2 linked regions of the Homo sapiens genome follow. The protein of the gene in region 2 purifies or fractionates together with the protein of the main gene of each other region. This does not show direct contact. Each region holds a gene or a part of one and is shown on either strand. Other genes may lie near its edges.

Region 1 (3,500 bases), about 160 Mb from region 2:
AGAAACTAGCATTTAAAGGGTGATGCATATAATGAGGAAGGTGAGTAAGAAATAGGATGAGACTGGGCATAGTGGCTCACGCCTGTAATCCTCAACACTTTGGGAGGCAGAGGCAGGCAGATCACTTGAGGCCAAGAGTTTGAGACCAGCCTGGCCAACATGTATCTGGAATAGAAAAAGCTACATGCCTGGGTGACAGAGAGAGAGATTCTGTCTCAAATAAAAAATAAATAAATAAAAATAAATAAATTAATTAAAAAAAAAAAGAAAAGAAAAAAGATTAAATCTGGCATTTATTAAGCACACACATTGAGCATCCCAGAGACTGAGTCAGGTCTGACATGGTCTCACTTGATTCATGCAATCACTCTTTGACTGTATTTTTTGAAATTGCCAGATCATAGGAATCTATGCAGGTGTGGGGTTGTGGAATGACGAGGAGGAGAAGGAAGAGGTTAGGACTGAAAGCTGAGGCAAGTTGGAAAACATTGTCCCAGGAGTAAGGCATTTTCATTCCACTTTTCCTGGGGAAGAAACAGAGTCTCTAAGAGATTCCATGGCCTGCCCAAGGTCACACAGAGTGTAGCGATGATGCTCATGTGGAGGATATAATTTCAATTGCCAATATTTCCTAAATGCTCATCTCGCTAAGGACTTCAGGTGCAAAGTCAATGTTTGAACCTTGAGTTCAAGTCTTAGTTATGTCATGGTCCACAATCTTGCTATTACGTCATATATCAACCTTCCTTGAAAAAACATGGGGACACATCCAGTGAAAATCTGAAGGAAGTGGGGCTGCTGAGACCAGAGAAGAAAAGATGGGGACAGATGCATGGTAGTTGTTCCCAAATATTGAAAGGCTGACACTCTGTAGGCAATCACACTTATTCTGCATGACTTATTTTGAATATCCTCCACTTTATTCAGGGATGCATTTTGGTGAAGCCCACTAAGCTTTTGGGATCTTTCAGCGATGGGTGGAAGTCATATCCCTGACAGATTAATACAATGAGGAACTCTGAGAGACAGAGCTGTCCAAATATAGAATAAGATGATTTCAACATAGTGTTGCAGGAATGCCCCAGCAACAGAGGTGTCCAAGCTGGATGACCTCTGAGGGGGATGTTTTAGGGGGATTTGATGTATCTGGAATAGAAAAAGCTACATGACACTTAAGTTTCTTTCCAACTTTGAAAGTTTCATTTTACAGAAGTTGGTATTTACTCTATTTACAAATGGATTTTAAAATCAGGGAAGGGATGTAAAGTGGGTCAGTATTACCGACCAGATGGGGAGGGAATTGCGTCATTGAAAGCTGTGACCAGTCAAGGGTTCCAGCGAGTAAATCAGCTCAACCATTGAGTAGTTCTAACCCTCACAGTGCATCAAAATCACCTAGGGAGCTTTTAAAAATGACAGACACTGAAGCCACATTCCAAACCAAGTGAAGCTGAATCTCTGGGGATGGGCCCAGGAATTGGTCATTTTTAAAAGCTCCCCAGGTGGTGCTAATGTGCAACCAAGATGGAGAATCCCTGAGCTAGAGGAAATGAAGCCCGCGCTGAGGCTGGGCGTGGTGCCCTCTGAGTCTCAGGATGACCAGCAATCAGTTCATCTCTGCATCAGGGCCAGTGGTGGCCCCTCCGGCTGGAGGGAGTTGGTGGGAAACTGGAAGACAGGAAGATACAGCCCTTTAACCCTTTAATGCCTAACTTCTAGTTATTAAAAAATGTTCACAAATTCATAGAGATGGGAAGTAAAATGGCGGTTGCCGGGGCCTTGGGGAGGAGGGAAGGGGAATGGAGAGTTACTCTTTAATGAGTACAGAGTTTAAGTTTGGGAAGGTAAAAAAGTTCCAGAGATGGCTACAGGTGATGGTTATACAACAATGCAAATGCATTTAATGCCACTGAACTGTACATTTAGAAGTGGCTAAAATGGTAAATTGTAGGTTATACATATTTACCACAATATAATTGTTAGATGTTTAAAGTACACTAATTATAATGAAAAGTATAATTAAATACATCAACCCATCCTAATGTAAAATGTTAGCACTTAGTCAAATTTTGTTGTCTTTTTACAGGGGAAAAAAAAATGAAACTTTGCAGATAAAAAAAAAAAAATTCAGAGGGATTTATCCCAGGACTAAAAGAGTGATTCAACTTAAGAAAAACAATCAGTGTAAGGCACCACACTAACACAATGAAGGAAACAAAAAACAAGCCACAGGATTATCTCGAGTGATACAGAAAACAAGCATTTGACATAAAATTCAACACCCCTTTGTGATTAAAAAAAAATGATTAGAAAACTAGAAATAGAAGATGATTTCCTCAACACAAAGGACATTTATGAAAAGCCCACAGCTAACATCACGCTCACTGGTGAAAGGCTAAAATCAAGAAATCCCCCTAAGATCAAGAACAAGAGAAGGATGTCTGCTTTCACCACTGCCACTCAACATTATACTGAAAGTTCTAGCCAGAGCAATTAGGCAAGAAAAATAAATAAAAATCATTCAAATTGGAAAGAAAGACGTAAAACTATTTCTATTCACAGTTGACATGATCCTATGTATAGAAAATCCCAAAGAATCCAGAAACAAAAAAGCTACTAGAGCTAATAAATTCAGCAAAATTGCAAGGGACAAGATCAACACACAAAAATCAGCTGTGTTTCTACACACCAGTAATACACAAGCCAAAAAGGAAATTAAGAAACAATTCCATTTATGAAAGCTTTCAGAGCATCTGAGGATTGGATATCAGAACAGTCTTGCAGTCTTTTGAAGTGGAATCATCTTGTTAGTAACGGTCCTTGGCAGAGGCACATGCATCAGAGCCTTTAATTTTATATGCATATTAGTGCATCTCATATTAAAATTAAGTAGAGCAAATAGATTTGATGGGGTGGTAGTGTGAACTGCACAGGACATGTGTAAGAACCTGAACCACATCCACAGGCAGGTCAGAGTGGCCTGGGTCTCAGCCATCCTGCCTCGCTTCACGTCTCAAGAGTCACAGGATGCTGGGAAGCAAAATCGCAGGCCTCTCGGAGGAAATCAGGCCTGAGTCAGCCTTCCCAGGAGGTTAAGGGAACAGATGAGGCCCAGGAAACGGTTTACTGTGGAGGGTGTTTTTCGCTAGACTAGTTGGAGGGGTATTTTTAAGTTGAAGAAGGAACTAAAAGTGTTTTTAATTATTATTTTTTGTGTGTGACTAGGGGCCAGAAAGACGAAGTGTTTGCCAAGTATTGCCACATTTCTTAGCTCTCCATGTTCCAGAGACTCGAAAAGTTGATAGATGCTTCCATCACAGAGATAGCTGTCTTGACCCTAATATGTTTCTGTTCCTCTCTCTAGCTAAGAGGTAAGTAACATCTGCTGAGATGGAAACGCTAGGAAGATAAAAATTCCCAGTGATTTGCTGAAAGGGAATGAGCCCTAAACTGAAAGCCAGGAGCCCTGCATTCTAGGCGGGCTTCTGCAGTACCCCAGT
Region 2 (3,500 bases):
GGAAGTTGCAGAAAGCCGAGACTGCGCCACTGCACACCAGCCTGGGCGACAGAGTGAGACTCTTGTCTCAAAAATAAAAAATAAAGGGCCGGGCGCGGTGGCCCAAGTCTGTAATCCCAGCACTTTGGGAGGCCGAGGCGGGTAGATCACAAGGTCAGGAGATCGAGACCATCCTGGCTAACATAGTGAAACCCTGTCTCTACTAAAAATACAAAAAATTAGCCGGGCCTGGTGGCGGGCGCCTGTAGTCCCAGCTACTCGGGAGGCCGAGGCAGGAGAATGGCGTGAACCCGGGAGGCGGAGCTTGCAGTGAGCCGAGATCGCGCCACTGCACTCCAGCCTGGGCAACAGAGCGAGACTCCGTCTCAAAATAAATAAATTAATTAATTAAATCAAATTAAATTAAAAATAAAAAATAAAGTCTAAAAGAATATAAAGAGACTATTCAAAGTGTTTGGGAGAGGGCATGGAACCAGGTTAATAAAGAACAGAGATGGAAGTAAGATTTTTCACTGTTTTGTTTTTTGTTTTTTGTTTTTTTTTGAGATGGAGTCTCGCTCTGTCGCCCACGCTGGAGTGCAGTGGCGCGATCTCGGCTCACTGAAGCTCCACCTCCCGGGTTCACGCCCTTCTCCTGCCTCCGCCTCCTGAGTAGCTGGGACGACATACATGTGCCACCACGCCCTGCTAATTTTTTGTATTTTTAGTAGAGACGGGGTTTCACCGTGTTAGTCAGGATGGTCTAGATCTCCGGACCTCGTGATCCGCCCGCCTCGGCCTCCCAAAGTGCTGGGATTACAGGCATGAGCCACCGCGCCCAGCCGACTTTTCACTGTTATATAAATTTATTTTTTATTTTATTTTTTTTTTTTTGAGACGGAGTCTCACTCTGTCGCCTAAACTGCAGTACAGTGGCATGATCTCGGCTCACTGCAACCTCCACTTCCTGGGTAGAAGTGATTCTCCTGCCTCAGCCTCCCAAGTAGCTGAGATAGCAGGCGCAGGCCACCTCACCCAGCTAATGTTTCATATTTTTAGTAGAGAAGGGGGTTTCACCATCTTGGCCAGGCTGGTCTCGAACTCCTGACCTCAAGTGATCCACCTGCCTCAGCCTCCCAAAGTGCTGGGATTACAGGCATGAGCCACCGCACCCAGCCCTAAATTTATATATTAAAAAAGTTTACATTTAATAACCAGTTGAATGTATTATCTATTCAAAGATTAAATGTATCTTAAAAAAAAAAACTAAAGCTCACAAAAGATAAGTAATTTGCCTTTATATTAACCATCATATAGTTAATAACAACAGAGTTGAATACAACTAAGGTTTTCCTAATGTTCTTTTCCTTTTATCACACTGCCTTTTGGAAATTTTCAGGAATGGAAGACATAAAACTTATTACAACCAGGCTTTTCTCTGAAACAGCCACTGCCTGTGATTGTTCAGGGAAAATAACACTAGTGAGACTACACTGAAGTCATCTCCATATGATGACTTTGTAAATAGTATAATAGCCATTGTTGGGTCAAAACATTCACCATCACCCACACAATACAATGTAATAATTGGGCTTCATCTACTAGAAGGAGATGAAATTCCCATAAATGCCTTTACCATAGGTTTCAAATTCCAACACTACATTCTTTTTGCAAAACAAAATGAAATGTATGACACTAAGAATATATGTATAAATACTTTCATACAGGGAAGAAAGCATAAAAGCAAGTCAGTTTTCTCCTCAAAATAAGTCCGGGATGAGCATATTTAAATGTGTAATTTTCTTTTTACAATTAACTAAAACCTTTTGAGACCAGCCTGGCCAACATGGTGAAACCCCATCTCTACTAAAAATACAAAAATTAGCCCTGCATGGTGGCCCTCGCCTGTAATCCCAGCTACTCAGGAGGCTGAGGGGCAGGAGAATGGTGTGAACCTGGGAAGCGGAGCTTGCAGTGAGCCGAGATCTTGCCACTGCACTCCAGCCTGGGTGACAGAGCAAGACCCCATAAAAAAAAATTAATTAAAAAAAAAAACAAACGCACACACACACAATTAACTAAAACCATAAAAAAATGTTACTGAGGATCCTGAGGTGGAGAGTCCCTAGCCTCCCAGCATACACACACACACACACACACACACACACACACACACATATATACATTTTTTTTTTTTGAGACGGACTTTCGCTCTTGTTGCCCAGGCTGGAGTGCAGTGGCCCGATCTCGGCTAACCGCAACCTCCACCACCCGGGTTCAAGCGATTCTCCTGCCTCAGCCTCCCAAGTAGCTGGGATTACATGCATGCACCACCACGCCCAGCTAATTTTTGTATTTTTTTTTTCAGTAGAGACAGGGTTTCTCCATGTTGGTCAGGCTAGTCTCGAACTCCTGACCTCAAGTGATCCACCCGCCTTGGCCTCCCAAAGTGCTGGGATTACAGGTGTGAGCAACCGCACCCAGCCAGCACATATATTTTAAACAGAATCAAAGCCCATCATATGTCAAGCTTACAAAGGATTTTTTGTGTTTGAGGGTCTATCCCAAACATATATCTGTAAGAGAGAATAACACATCATACATCCAGGGCATCAAGTATCTGAGGATATCACCATTAATTCATATACAAACATCTGTACCATTTGGTACTACTTTTCAACAAGTGCCAAGGAACCACCAATCCAACTCTGGGTCCCTCCTTGGTGAGCAGGCCCACCTATAGGACTTACTATCTCCTCTGCTCAATCTCCTGCTATCATGCTGGACAACTGTGACATTCATATTGATGACATATTCAACACAGCCCCCTAATCTCCCACTACTTCAATAACCTACACCTCCATTCCCCTTCAACAGCATTGAGACAGTTAAGCCAGTTTTTGTCTTTACCTTGAAATAATGAACTCTGGGCTGTCCAATTATATATTTCTTACAAAATCTGGTCTTCAACCACATTTCTGATTGTCTTTTTATTCTCTAAGTACACCAGCCTCCCTCTAGATTTTGCTTCTTATAACTCCCAGCTTGGTCCCTTGGAATGAAACATATCTCCTACACTATCAATAGCAGTGTAAAGTTGCTTCCCATTTTATCTTTCTGTCCTGCAAGTTTCCATTTTGAATCAATCCAACCATCTTTTTTGTCCTACTATTCTTAGGCTGTTGAAGAAAGTGTAAAATCCATGCTCCTGGGCCCCATTACAAATATATTATTTCTAACTAGTAGGACCCTCAATGTGGTCAACAATCTTTTAGCTCCTGAGTTTTTTTTTGCTTTTTTTTTTTTCTTTCCCCCAGGCTGGAGTGCAGTGGTACAATCTTGACTCCCTGCAACCTCAGCCTCCCGGTTCAAGCAATCCTCCCACCTCAGCCTCTCCAGTAGCTGGGACAACAGGCATGCACCACCACACCCAGCTAATTTTTTAATTTTCTGTAGAGACGAGGTCTCACAATGTTGCCCATGCTGGTCGCAAACTCCTGGGCTCAAGCGATCCTCCCACT

The links. The genes of interacting proteins can lie anywhere in the genome.
Region 1: the proteins of TESK2 (region 2) and NAV1 purify together in Homo sapiens (affinity purification with mass spectrometry, with the first as the bait; one large-scale study listed by BioGRID). This does not show direct contact.

What each region holds. Positions count from the first base shown.
Region 1 is NC_000001.11:201,542,127-201,545,626, reverse strand, and holds part of NAV1 (neuron navigator 1), read right to left. Parts: intron 1-3,500. UniProt on the Homo sapiens protein: May be involved in neuronal migration.
Region 2 is NC_000001.11:45,484,664-45,488,163, forward strand, and holds part of TESK2 (dual specificity testis-specific protein kinase 2), read right to left. Parts: intron 1-3,500. UniProt on the Homo sapiens protein: Dual specificity protein kinase activity catalyzing autophosphorylation and phosphorylation of exogenous substrates on both serine/threonine and tyrosine residues. Phosphorylates cofilin at 'Ser-3'. May play an important role in spermatogenesis.